Linked DNA regions of Homo sapiens. The protein of the gene in region 3 purifies or fractionates together with the protein of the main gene of each other region. This does not show direct contact. Each region holds a gene or a part of one and is shown on either strand. Other genes may lie near its edges.

What was found. The genes of interacting proteins can lie anywhere in the genome.
Region 1: the proteins of RIPK2 (region 3) and ERN1 purify together in Homo sapiens (affinity purification with western blotting, with the first as the bait; one study listed by BioGRID). This does not show direct contact.
Region 2: the proteins of RIPK2 (region 3) and ATF6 purify together in Homo sapiens (affinity purification with western blotting; one study listed by BioGRID). This does not show direct contact.
Region 4: the proteins of RIPK2 (region 3) and NBR1 purify together in Homo sapiens (affinity purification with western blotting, with the first as the bait; one study listed by BioGRID). This does not show direct contact.

The regions. Positions count from the first base shown.
Region 1 is NC_000017.11:64,043,145-64,046,845, forward strand, and holds part of ERN1 (serine/threonine-protein kinase/endoribonuclease IRE1 precursor), read right to left. Parts: intron 2,339-3,701; coding exon 2,215-2,338; intron 1,784-2,214; coding exon 1,716-1,783; intron 1,057-1,715; coding exon 844-1,056; 3' UTR 1-843. UniProt on the Homo sapiens protein: Serine/threonine-protein kinase and endoribonuclease that acts as a key sensor for the endoplasmic reticulum unfolded protein response (UPR).
Region 2 is NC_000001.11:161,849,619-161,853,319, reverse strand, and holds part of ATF6 (cyclic AMP-dependent transcription factor ATF-6 alpha), read right to left. Parts: intron 1,656-3,701; coding exon of another isoform or gene 1,599-1,655; coding exon 1,485-1,598; intron 97-1,484; coding exon 1-96.
Region 3 is NC_000008.11:89,788,787-89,791,739, forward strand, and holds the end of RIPK2 (receptor-interacting serine/threonine-protein kinase 2), read left to right. Parts: intron 1-534; coding exon 535-696; intron 697-1,292; coding exon 1,293-1,630; 3' UTR 1,631-2,278; downstream 2,279-2,953.
Region 4 is NC_000017.11:43,195,013-43,198,713, reverse strand, and holds part of NBR1 (next to BRCA1 gene 1 protein), read right to left. Parts: coding exon 3,675-3,701; intron 2,234-3,674; coding exon 2,123-2,233; intron 1,773-2,122; coding exon 1,608-1,772; intron 1-1,607. UniProt on the Homo sapiens protein: Ubiquitin-binding autophagy adapter that participates in different processes including host defense or intracellular homeostasis.

The sequences.
Region 1 (3,701 bases), on a different chromosome or scaffold from region 3:
AGGCTGGCCCCTGTCTGGGTCTTCGCTGCTCTCCTTGAAGGCCAGGGAACTCTTTACCTCTTGCCCCAGGCGCTCCTGAGCACCACCCCGAGATGGCCCGGGACACACCCACCAAAGGCCACTGTTCTGGCCACTGGCACTGGGCCACGGCTGCCTCCAGAACAGAGCAGCCTCTTCATTTCTGAGACCTGCAGACACAACCCCACCTGCCAGCATGCATAGCTGACCAGTCCCTAATGCCACACCTCATGCTCATGGCTCCTGCTGCCTCTGCAGAAACACTAGTTAACAGTGACCTGGGCTACTCTGGGCACATCTGTGATCAATGAGAAATCTCACACTGCAGGACGACACCCTCTGAACTCCGTCCTCCCCCTCCTCAGCATCCCCCACCTCTCAATTCCGGTCTCCAGTGAAGGCTGTACTTGGTGCATCTCAGCCTAGCTGTCCCAGCACGCAAGCAAAATGTACGATTCCCTCCTCTCCCTTCCTGAAAGGCCTGTAGACTGACATTAAGCAGGAATTTAAAAAGTCTGAAGCAAGTTTATCCAGTAGATGGCTGGGGGTGCTACTCGCGCTGTCTCTGAGGCCCTCCTTTGCAGACATCATGACCGTAAGGCTTTTGGGGCCAGCATCTTCCCAGTTCCCTGTAGGTCACGAGGGGCCACTTCTCCCACTTCCTGGGGTCAGCACTGTCCTCTGTGGGCTGCAGAGCAGGCAGCTCAAGGCACTTGGTTTGGGAAGCCTGGTCTCCCTGCAAAGCCGGGAGGCATCAAGCTCTAATTGTGGTGACCAGGCCCTCAGTCACAGCTGGGGCCACCAGAACAGAGGGGCCGCCCTCGCTCAGAGGGCGTCTGGAGTCACTGGGGGCTGGGGCTCTGGGGGCTCGTGGAAGTAGTAGGGCTGGAAGAGTCTCTCGTGGCTGCACAGCTCCATGGCCCGGTAGGTGTGTGCGAGGAGGTGGGGGAAGCGAGATGTGAAGTAGCACACGAAGTCGTCGGGGAGGGACCCCAGCGTCTCCCGCACCTCTGCAGGCAGCTCCCGGTAGTGGTGCTTCTGCAAAGAGTTAGAAAGCTCGGGAGATTAGAAAGGGGTTAGAAAGCTCGGGAAATGTTGGCAAAACACCCTTTCATCATGCAAGGAAGAGACAGAATGTGAGTGTTGGTTTTTGGTAAAGAAAAAGAAAAAAGGCTTATGTATCCAAGAATCCAGCCCCGTCATCTCGCCTGCTACCCTCACTCAGGAGGAGGCCTTGAAGTGAGCAAGGCCCAGCCAGTCCAGGGGGTGCTCAGGCCTTCTGTGACAGTCAGGACCTGGAGACACTCCTGGCCACCTCAGGAGGAGTAAAGTCGCCTGAGATTGGAGTGTCCGTCCCAGTGGGGTCCCCGCATTTGAGGTATGTTTATACATGTTTACACACAGTGGCTGCATCAGACAGGGAGAGGGCCCCACAAAAGTCAGCGACCAGAGACCATGAGGGACATGGGCCGCAGAGCACTGCTTCCCGGAGCTTCACCTGCACCTACGTCCCTGAAGGGAAAATCAGCGTAAGAGAGGCAACAGCCTGCAGTTTGCCAAGTCCAGCTGAAGCCGCCTAGCTCCTGAGAGATGAGAATGCCAGTACAGATAAAAGATTTATAAAGAATGGATGAAAGGAGGAAGGTGTCCATGTCATGGCCACTGGGTCTCCTCCCCAGCATTTACAAACTGCTTACCTTATTTCTCATGGCTCGGAGGAGATCTCTGACAGAACCACCTTTATAGGTCCTGAATTTACGCAGGTCTAGAAAAACATTGAGGGAAGCAATGGGTAATCAAATTTAAAACTAATACATTTTAAAAGAAAACAATTCATGGGGTCCTGGGATTAGGGAGTTGGACTGAAAGGTGAGGTCACTCCACACCTAGGCATGGGAGCAGATCCTCCCATCCAACCCAAGGGTGGTATCCCCCTGAACCCCACCTGGTGATCACACCCAGGTCAGAAATGACCACCTAGAGCACGACACCATCACTCACCTGTCACTCTAGGGAACAAAAATGAAACACACATCAGTGTAACCAAACCACAGAGGACACACCCAAGAAAGTCTCAAACCTGACAGGTGGGATGTGGGGCCTGAACAGCCTGGAGCGGCCATTTCCACGTTTACTTTTTGGAAAGGCGGCAGCGACTTTTGCAACCTGCCCTCTCACACGCTGCAGCATGATCACCTGTCTGGAGGGGGACAGTGATGTTCTCCCGCCAGTCCATCTTCACCACGGCTCTCCCGCCTCTCTCTAACTGCTTCACGATCGGGCCATCCAGGGATTCCTTTTCTATTCTGTCGCTCACGTCCTGTGAGAGAAACAAGGGCAGCAGATGATGGTCAGTGCTGGAGATGCTGAGAGCTGTGCGACTGGGACTCAGTAACAGATCATCACTGACACATAAGCCTGCCCCAGAGCTGGGCAGCAGGCACCCTGCCCCCTCCCTCCCTCATCCATGACTTTCCCTGTGAGCTGCTCTGTTCCTCACGAAGCACAGGCCCACAGAGAGCTTCTCCCATGTCAGAGAGGTGTCACAGAGTACACCTGCATATAGACCACGAACGCATACCCTGAATTTCACATGTGCACACACACGCCATGTGTACGGAGCCGCAAGTGCAATCTATATCCAATGAACCAAAACCAAAAAGAAAAGGAAAGCTCAGATTTGATGTGCATCCCGTGCTTTGTCTACTCACTGAAACAGGGTATGCTCAAGCCCATAACTGGTGGAGGGTCGCCACTCTTCCCTCCACCAGTAGAAAAGACCTGTGAAGCTGGGCCTTCTTCTCAAAGAGGAAACTTGGTGGCAAGAGTATGGGCTCCAGAGGCTCCTGTTGGGATTCAAACCTTGCTCTGCATTTGACTTTGGTAATAAGGAGAGGGTCAGGAAGCACCCAAGTATGGCCTCTTGAAGTCCCACCAGTAAGACAGGTCGACAGCTGAGGACACAGGGAGTGGTGAGCCCTGTCTACATCAATGTTAAGTAGCCTTAGGAGACCCTTTTCTCAGAGCAGCCTTTTCTATGATGAAGATGAAGCCAGACTGGCTGAACTCCTAATTTACAATTGTCAGAGAGAAGCTGTGGAGAGGTTAGATTGTCAACTTGGGTACACTGGGAACACACGTGTCTGAGCTGCAAAGCTGTTACGGCTAAATGACCTGAGTGGAAGCCAGGTGTGTTCGAGAGACATATGACCTGGAGATACTAAGCATTTAAATCCTGTCCCTTGGTGGGTGAAGGTCCCTTTGTGTGGGTTTTATTCCTGTTCTATATTTTGCGATCAAAATGACCTGGTTAGTTTTCACAAGTCCCTGGAAGACATATGGACTTGAGAATTTTCACATTATGTCCATGGACACAGTGACCAATCCATATGCTACAACATGGAAGACAGCATTAAACTCTTCCCAACCCGATCCATCTGAATGGTTGGGCCAGGCAGCGTCCTCCCTAGGAGGCAGGGACACAGTAGTGAATGCAGCAGTCAAGCACTCCTGTCCTCGAGGAGCTTACATTCTGGGGGCTTCCCTCTGGCCAAGGCCCCAGTCAGACCCCAGGAGAGCATGATGGTCACTTCTCAGTACGGTGCCCACCAAGCTGCACTCTGCCTGGACCCAAGGGGAAAAGCACTGCCCCACAAGCCTGCTTTCAGAGCCACGTGCTGGGC
Region 2 (3,701 bases), on a different chromosome or scaffold from region 3:
AGAATACGGGTTTTCTGTTGATTATTTGTCATTCTTCTTGACTTGGTCCTTTCTACTTCATGTCTATGAACCCATCCTCGAAGTTCATGATTTAACCTATAAAATATAGTTTAATTAATTAAACATAGAAATTAATTAAACATAGAAATGGATGTTTCACCCTGTGGGTGGAAATGAATCTAATCATTTGTAGGTTCCAAAGAGCATTCCAAGTGCCTGATGACTCAATATTGCTTTTTGATTTGAAAAAGTTGACACTTAACGTTGTTTTTAATAAGACATGCATTTTTACATGGTAAACCTGTCAACCATGCATTCAAACTTCAAAGAAAACTACAGCTAAATACCTCCCAAATATAAACACTGGATGCTAAGGTTTTTCCACCAAAAAAAGTATTTCCTTGCCAGGCACAGTGGCTTACACCTGTAATCCTAGCACTTTGGGAGGCTGGGGTGGGAAGACTGCTTGAGCCCAGGAGTTTGAGATCAGCCTGCGCAACACAGTGAGACCCTGTCTCTACAGAAAATTTTTTTAAAAAATTAACTGGGCATGGTGGCATGTGCCTGTAGTCCCAGCTACTCAGGAGGCGAAGGCAAGAGGATCACTTGAGCCTGGGAGTTTGGGGAAGCGGTGAGCTATGATCCAGCCACTGCACACCAGCCTGAGCAACAGAGCAAGACCCTGTCTAAAAATAAAATAAAATAAAACAAAACAAAATAAAAAGTATTTCCTATTTCTGTTCTTGGGCTATATAAACACAAACATTTGAGACACATTGTAGAGAACTTAACAAGTCATAGGACCCCTAACAACAAATAGATGCATTAAAACCTCTTGAAAATCATGCTCTTTTGGGAGAAGAAAAAGAATGAACTCAATTGCCTGGGGTAAAAAAAAATTCAAATTTTTCAACACACGAAATAAAAGCATAGCTCATATATAACTTCCCTTATTTTGCTTACTTTTTACAGCAGCTGTGAAGATGTTAAACTATGTTTAACTGTAGTTGATTACTACATATCACAAAAAATCTGAGGTAGTTTTTGAGGTTTTAAGGGTAAGGTCCAAAATCACAGGAAAAAAAAATTCAAGGGAAAAATTGATAAAGAAGTGTGTACTAACGGTAAAGTATCTCCAGAATCACATACCCACAAATTATTATCTTCCTAATTGGAAGAAAAAGGTACTTTCTGCTATGAATGTTACCAACTGTAAGCCTAACACCATGAAATTTTAATATTAATTTCATTCTGTAGTTTTTAAAGAAGACATATTTAAGTAAGCAACTATCACATAAAATAGACCCATCACCATCTCCATGAGGTTGGTGGAGAAACTGGACAACTAATATGCCTACAGTTATCCACAAATAATTCAGAGATTCTCTCAGTCACTTAGTGAACTTGACCAATTACTTGTCTAGGTTCCAAAACTAAACATGGGAACCAACTCAGATGTTTCTGCAATAATCTACAACACTCACCTGAGAGACTCTGTTGTGTTAATTAGGGGCTGACAAGGAGGTGGAGGAATGTAAAGCAATGGTTCTTCAGTTAGCACCATCAGGGCTTTGTCATTTGAAACAGAATGATCATATCTGAAACATGGATGCACAAAATTTGTTTCCTTGTATCTTAAATTCCTAAGAAGTTTGCTATAAGAAAATCATCATTAGTGTTAACTTTTCATGGAAACAAAAATATAGTAAACAGAATATACTGCAAGATAAAGTATAAAATACAAAACCTTATTTTACATGAAATGTCATTTTCTGATTTTCTACAGAGACAGGATGGTAATTCACATTTGTCTAATCACCATTTATTGAGCAATTAATTTGGAATAAGCGATACAATAACACATGGTTCATCATATCTTCAATGAGCTTAAGACATGCACAATGCTGCTGGTACAGAGGTAGTAACACAGTAACGGGGTAATTGAGGCGAAAATCAAGTGGTATTATGTGACCAGACTAAAGTTTAGGGGTCATTCACAATTCTATGATAATAAAATTGGATAGTATCTGTAAAACAGGTAGGGGTGTGTGTGTGTGTGTGTGTGTGTGTGTGTGTGTGTGTGTGTTAAGGATAGGGTGAGACACAATTCTATGATAAAACTGGATAGTATCTGTAAAACAGGTAGGGGTGTGTGTGTGTGTGTGTGTGTGTGTGTGTATGTTAAGGATAGGGTGAGACATAAAATGCTTGGCAGGAGAAAAGTGAAAGAGTTGAAAAGCCGAATATAAACTATGGGATCATGGAAGAATGTGAATCACTAATAAAACAACAGAGTGACTGACATTAACTAGTTACTCCATTTGCTTCAAAAATATATACTTTCCTAGCCATCGCACTGATGTAGATCATGTGAATTCATATCCAAGGTGTGACGTAGGGAGCAAAACTGGAGTTGAAAGTTAGAATTTGAGATGGGGATATTACTGTTATTTATGCTCTTCAGTCTGCAATCTTAATCTCTCTCACTAACAAAGCTTGCATCTCTCTTGAATTTCTTTATATAGGATGATCTGGATTTAGAAAACTAGATATGCTAATATCTCAAAAGAAAACATGTAAACATATAAAACTGAACATAGTGAGACTCACACTTTTCATTTATTCATTCAACAAATACTTGCTGCATACCAACTGTGCACCAGGTATTGTGCTAGGTGCTGAGAATCCAGTAGGGAATGAGAGAATCAAAGTTTCTGTCCCCAAAGACCTTAATGGGGAAGATGGACCAAATAGAAGAAAATAAATGCATAAAATAATCCGAACTCTAGTAAGTGCTATGAAAGAAACAAACAAATGGTTGAAATGGAAAAGCAATGGTAGTATATACTTTAGATAAAATGGTCCGAGAAGGAGATGGTAGTTACATCAAGGCCTAAATGATGAGAAGACGCCGCCTCTATAGAAACTGGGGTAAGAGCATTCTAGGCATAAAAGAGGCAGGTGGGGGAAAGGTGGGCTCAAAGAACTTTAAAAAGACCACTGGCTGAAGAGTTGCAAGCAAGTGGGGAGGTAGAGAGGGAACAGGATGAGGCTGGAAAGGAATCATAATAAGGTCATAATAAAAGACCAGGTCATAATAAGGAATTACTAAATGTAATAAGAAGTCATAAAAGTGTTTCAAATAAAGAAGTGATATATTTCAATTTACATTCATACCTTGCCATGGTACCAAAAATGGACTCAATGGAGGCAAAAGGGGAAGCTGAGACACTGATTAGGAAAGAGCTATGGCAATCCTGGCAAGAACTGATGATGGCATGGACTAGGTTTGTGGCAGCAGAGACGGAGAGGAGTGGACCAATTCAAGACAATTTTGGGGAAGAGTATCAACAACACTTGTTGAAAGACAGGAATCAGGATTTCTGGCTTAAGCAATGGAAAGGAAAAAACACAGTTGTAGAAAATTGGTTGGAAGTAAAACAGGGAGAGGAACTGAGTTCCACAGTGCACATGTTAAGTTTGAAATGTTAAAACAGAGATGTCAAAGAGACTATTGGATATGTGACTCTGGAGACTCAGAAGAGAAGTCTGGACTGAAAACATAAATTTGAGAGTCATCAGGACATATAGATATGAACTGTGCATGAAATTATAGATGAGTCACCTAGGCAGAAAGAAAATAAAAAAAGTTTACAGTTCCAAACCTTGAGAGTTGGGTAAAAAAAGAGCCCACAAAGATT
Region 3 (2,953 bases):
AGAGAGACAGAGAGAGAGAGAGAGGGAGGGAGGGAGGCAGGGAGGGAGGAAGGAAGGAAGGAAAGAAGGAAGGAAGGAAATATAAGACGAAAGTTCAATGAAGACAGAAAATGTAATTGCGTGGATTTGGGAATAGAGGGGATGATTAAGTCCCTGAGGCTCAGTGGGATTGCCAGAAGAGAAACTAGAAAGACAGACATCATATATAGATTTAGAGAACATACTTAAACTTCAGAAGGAGTAAGAAGACACACAGGAAAAATATGGGACTATGTAAAGAAGTAAAATTCTATGATTTATAATTTACACAGAACAGACAATTTCTGACAGAAATTGTAGTGAAAGCATTCCATATAAACCCTTTTTTGTTTTAAGAAATATCTACTTGCAGAATTAGGTTTCTGAACCAGCCTTAATATTAGTGGAAACTAAAGACATTGGAGCCTACCTTCTGTCTGCTCAGATGTTGACATGTTAGCCAATAGGAATTTCTAAGGAGTATTCTACTTCTAATGAAGATGTTGTATTTTGTAGGAAAAGCTCAAGACTGTTATTTTATGAAGCTGCATCACTGTCCTGGAAATCACAGTTGGGATAGCACCATTTCTGGATCTCAAAGGGCTGCATTCTGTGATCACAAGACCACTCCATGCTCTTCAGCAATAATAAATCCACTCTCAACTGCAGGAAACTCAGGTAAATATTTACTGTGAAACACCTTGTAAGTGATGCCATTGACCTTACATATCTGTGTTCAGTGGATTTACCATACAATGAGGTTTGTCTTTATTTCCTCAATATGATAAATACATACCTTCTTAAGTAGGAAAACAAATCCCAGGAGATGGGAATGATGACATGGCCCAAATGGTATTCTATGAACATCTAAATAGGGAGGCAGTGCTAAGAGGAGGTATTAACATATTACTAATGGTAAAGTTATTTTTGTTTATTTAAAAAATTTGCAGGTATCTTTTATATTTGAAATAAAATGGACATCAAACAAAACTGAACAAATCCCAGAAGATGGAAATGATGACATAAAGTGGTTTTTGCCCCGTGATTTATACCATAGGAAAAGGCAATGCCTTTTCTGGGGAGTGAGGGGGAGATAACCCAAATCTCTGAATGTTTCCTGAAAAATGACACCATTCCCCAAAGTGTTGGTGTTCCATATTGGCACAATCATAGGAAAATTATGTTTTATGCTTTATTTATTTTTCATGGAATTTTACTTATTGCTATGTATCTGTCCTCACCTTTTAAATTATTCATTCCTTGTTCTTTTTCAGAACGTCTGCAGCCTGGTATAGCCCAGCAGTGGATCCAGAGCAAAAGGGAAGACATTGTGAACCAAATGACAGAAGCCTGCCTTAACCAGTCGCTAGATGCCCTTCTGTCCAGGGACTTGATCATGAAAGAGGACTATGAACTTGTTAGTACCAAGCCTACAAGGACCTCAAAAGTCAGACAATTACTAGACACTACTGACATCCAAGGAGAAGAATTTGCCAAAGTTATAGTACAAAAATTGAAAGATAACAAACAAATGGGTCTTCAGCCTTACCCGGAAATACTTGTGGTTTCTAGATCACCATCTTTAAATTTACTTCAAAATAAAAGCATGTAAGTGACTGTTTTTCAAGAAGAAATGTGTTTCATAAAAGGATATTTATATCTCTGTTGCTTTGACTTTTTTTATATAAAATCCGTGAGTATTAAAGCTTTATTGAAGGTTCTTTGGGTAAATATTAGTCTCCCTCCATGACACTGCAGTATTTTTTTTAATTAATACAAGTAAAAAGTTTGAATTTTGCTACATAGTTCAATTTTTATGTCTCTTTTGTTAACAGAAACCACTTTTAAAGGATAGTAATTATTCTTGTTTATAACAGTGCCTTAAGGTATGATGTATTTCTGATGGAAGCCATTTTCACATTCATGTTCTTCATGGATTATTTGTTACTTGTCTAAGATGCAATTTGATTTTATGAAGTATATACCCTTTACCCACCAGAGACAGTACAGAATCCCTGCCCTAAAATCCCAGGCTTAATTGCCCTACAAAGGGTTATTAATTTAAAACTCCATTATTAGGATTACATTTTAAAGTTTTATTTATGAATTCCCTTTAAAAATGATATTTCAAAGGTAAAACAATACAATATAAAGAAAAAAATAAATATATTAATACCGGCTTCCTGTCCCCATTTTTAACCTCAGCCTTCCCTACTGTCACCAACAACCAAGCTAAATAAAGTCAACAGCCTGATGTGTATCTTTCTGTCCCTTTCTTCCTGCTTATATTTAGAACATATGCTCATTTGAGAAAGGATCTTTCTGCATATTATTATTATAATTATACATCATACTGCAACCTGCTTTTTGCATTTAATAGTACAGCCTTCCAGATCAGATATGGCTCTAACTTACTCTTTTTACTTGCTGCCTAATACCCACAGTTTTTATTTTCTTAACTTGTCCATATCAAATTTAGCCCAAACAATAAAAGTACGGTGTGAGCACTTTTTTGGTTAATAGGTTATATTACTATAGGAGAACTTACAAGGAATAATAGCCCTTTTCTGAAACTGCGTAGCGAAGTCAGCAGAAAGTGAGATACAGAATAAATTTGAAAAGATGAACTTTCAAGAAGCAACAGACCCACAACCTGAAAAGTTTGAATAAAAGAAATTAGATGCCATTGAGGTAATTAAATATTAATTAGAAATATAAGCATTTTAATCTCCATTTTAGAGCTTGACATTAACTTGTACCTCTTACTGTGCCTTTCAGAAATATGGAAATTAATAGGGAAAAGTGAAAACTAAACACATGAGTTATCTATTAAATTTTAAAAAGCATTAAGATGCAAATTTTATTTGTGAAGTAATAAATAGAGAAAATTATTTTGGAAGCTTTCCCTTTTCTCTATACATACTCTAAAAAGAAA
Region 4 (3,701 bases), on a different chromosome or scaffold from region 3:
CTGGGATTACAGGTATGAGCCACCGCACCTGGCCACATGTACACTTTATTATTTTTTTTTTTTAGACGGAGTCTCGCTCTGTCACCCAGGCTGGAGTGCAGTGGTGCGATCTCAGCTCACTGCAACCTTGGCTTCCCGGGTTCAAGCAGTTCTCCTGCCTCAGCGTCTTGAGTAGCTGGATCACAGGCACACGCTACCACGCCCAGCTAATTTTTGTATTTTTAGTAGAAATGGGGTTTCTCCATGTTGGTCAGGCTGGTCTCAAACTCCTGAGCTTGTGATCTGTCCGCCTCGGCCTCACAAAGTGCTGGGATTACAGGCGTGAGCCACTGCGCCTGGCCTTACATGTATACTTTAAACAAAAGTAAGATAAATAATATTTAAAGATATAGGTCAAATTTGATTATAATAAAGAGATTCTCCAATATTATTTTGACATAGTATATTTGAATTTTTGGATACTTCTTAAAATATATGCTATTGGTTCTATCTATCTGATACCTAGAAGTTTCTGTTATAAAGGTATTTATTCCTTTTTTTTTTTTTGAGACGGAGTTTCACTCTTGTTGCCAGGCTGGAGTGCAATGGCGCCATCTCGGCTAACCACAGCCTTCGCCTCCCGGGTTAAAGTGATTCTCCTGCCTCAGCCTCCCAAGTACCTGGGATTACAGGCATGTAATCCTTGGCATGTAGCCACCACACCTGGCTAATTTTTAGTATTTTTAGTAGAGATGGGGTTTCTCCATGTCGGTCAGGCTGGTCTCGAACTCCCAACCTCAGGTGATCCACCCGCCTCAGCCTCATAAAGTGCTAGGATTACAAGGGTGAGCCACTGTGCCCGGCCTATAAAGGTATTTATTACAGCAGAATTTAACCTTGAGAAACTTTGTTGGTACTCCTGCTTCTATCCACTGTTTCTGGGACTGCTGCCCTTGGAGAAAGCAGACAACTCAGCTACCCATAGGGGTCTCTGCTAAGGAGCTCTGTCAAATTACAGGAAGATTCCTTACTGCAGAATCCAGGCAGCACAACTGGCTGCTATTCCACTGTGGAATGCAGCTGTAATTCTGCCCCTGAGAAGATGGAGAAATGAGTATGATGGCTTCTTTACTCCTGATGCTCTAATTAGAACAGTCAGGTAGCATACGTAGAGTCTAAAGACACAAACAAGATCAGAATTTCTTTTTTTTTTTTTGAGATGGAGTCTCGCTTTGTCGCCCAGGCTAGAGTGCAGTGGCGCAATCTTGGCTCACTGCAAGCTCCGCCTCCCGGGTTCATGCCATTCTCCTGCCTCAGCCTCCCGAGTAGCTGGGACTACAGGCACCCGCCACGTCGCCAGGCTAATTTTTTGTATTTTTAGTAGAGATGGGATTTCACCATGTTAGCCAGGATGGACTTGATCTCCTGACCTTGTGATCCGCCTGCCTTGGCCTCCCAAAGTGCTGGGATTACAGGCTTGAGCCACCACGCCCCGCCAAGATCAGAACTTCTAACTAAGATCACTCTCCCTTCAGTCTCAGTGAAGAAGAGCACATCTAACTAGTCAAGTCTGGCAGTCACAATTCAGGTGCCACCCTGCTAGGTAGGGGAAATGCAAGGACACTCACTCTGCAAGGACTTCTGTCTGCAAGGAGGGTTGTGGTCTGGGGCAGCATCCAAGGTAAGGGATCGGATTACTGTCTCACACACAAACTGGGTCCCACTCAGGTCTTCTTCTGCTTCCTCCACAGAAGCAATGTTCTCAGCCTTCCTCTTTACTGACACCATAGAATCTGAAAGACACACGAACCTTATCTGCACTGGGTGTTTAAAGTGCTGAGGAACATTCACCAGTCATTACCCATGCTAAAACTAAACCAAGGAATAGCTGCTATCTAAACTTTGTCTGCACTTGGTGTTTAAAGTGCTGAAGAACATTCACCAGTCATTACCCATGCTAAAACTAAACCAAGGAATAGCTGCTATCTGTGCCATGTGAAGGTGAGGAGACTTCAAAACATGAGATGCTACAGAAAGCAAGCCCATTTACATGCTAAGGTAGGGTCAGTAGGGGATAGCTGTAAAATAGGGTATGATATGGAAAGGGAGGATGCAAATACTTTACAAATGTTTAATCCCTTACCAGGAAGTGCTTTAAATCCTGCCCCTTCATTCTCTTCCTCTATCTGCCCCAAGCCTGGCTTCTCTATTAAAGGACTGTCATGTGGCAGAGGAGACATGCAGGGAGTCACATCTGGAGAATGAAGACAGGAGAACCATCAATCAAGAGAAAGCATCATATCATCAACAGTCAGTGTCCAGAAGTAGCAGTTTGTAGGCTTCTTGCCTCCCGCAGGGCTAAAATAAACCAAGATATGCTTTGAGGTCTGTTACAAAAAATTTCTCCAGACCAATAAGTAAGCAAAATATCTCAGATCAATCAATGCAGGAAGAATCACAGTTATTTAGCCTGGAAAGCTGTGGCCAAGACACAAAACCATGAACATAAAGGAACAAAAGGACACAAGTATCTAGAGGGAAAAAAGAGAAGAGGATTCCTTTATAGTGGAAAAGCCTTGCACGAACTTGTTTTATTGCTTTTTTTTTTTTTTTTGAGATGCAGTCTTGCTCTGTCACCCAGGCTAGAATGCAGTGGCACAATCTCGGCTCACTGCAACCTCCGCCTCCCAGGTTCAAGCAACTCTCTGCCTCAGCCTCCCGAGTAGCTGGGATTACAGGCACCTGCCACCATGCCTGGCTAATTTTTGTATTTTTAGTAGAGATGGGGTTTCACCATCTTGGCCAGGCTGGTCTTGAACTTCTGACCTTGTGATCCACCAGCCTTGGCCTCCCAAAGTGCTGGGATTACAGGCGTGAGCTACCGTGCCCAGCCTCTTTTTTTTGTTTGTTTTTTGAGATTGGGTTTCACTCTGTCATCCAGGCTGGAGAGCAATGGCACAATCCTGGCTCACTGCAGCCTCTGCCTCCTGGGATCAGGAGATTCTCCCACTTCAGTCTCCCTGGTAGCTGGGACCACAGGTGCAGGCCACCATGCCAAGCTAATTTTTTTTTTTTTTTTTTTTGAGACGGAGTTTTGCTCTTGTTGTCCTGGCTGGAGTGCAATGGTGCAATCTCAGCTCACCACAACCTCCGCCTTCTGGGTTCAAGCAATTCTCCCGCCTCAGCCTCCCGAGTAGTTCGGATTACAGGCATGTGCCACCATGCCCAGCTAATTTTGTATTTTTAGTAGAGAAGGGGTTTCTCCATGTTGGTCAGGCTGGTCTCAAACTCCCGACCTCAGGTGATCTGCCCGTCTCAGCCTCCCAAAGTGCTGGGATTACAGGCGTGAGCCACCGTGCCTGGCCACACCCAGCTAATTTTTAAAAGTAATTTTTGTAGAGATGGGGGTTTCACCATGTTGCCCAGGCTGGTCTCAAACCCTGGCCTCAAGTGATCCTCCTGCCTTGGCCTCCCAAAGAGCTGGGATTATAGACACGAGCCACCATGCCCAGCATGTTGTTACTTTTGACAAAGGACAGGAAAGAAGAAAAACGGATCCATGATTGCTGCTTTACTATCCTACTGTGGGAGAAATCCTTGCCATTTCCTCAGAATAAAACACTACCAGTGTCTAGGCTGTGGTACTTTTGTGCCTATTAGTAAGACGAACAAGATGAAATGAGTGACATTCTTACCCACAGGGGTGTTGTGGGGCACTCTCT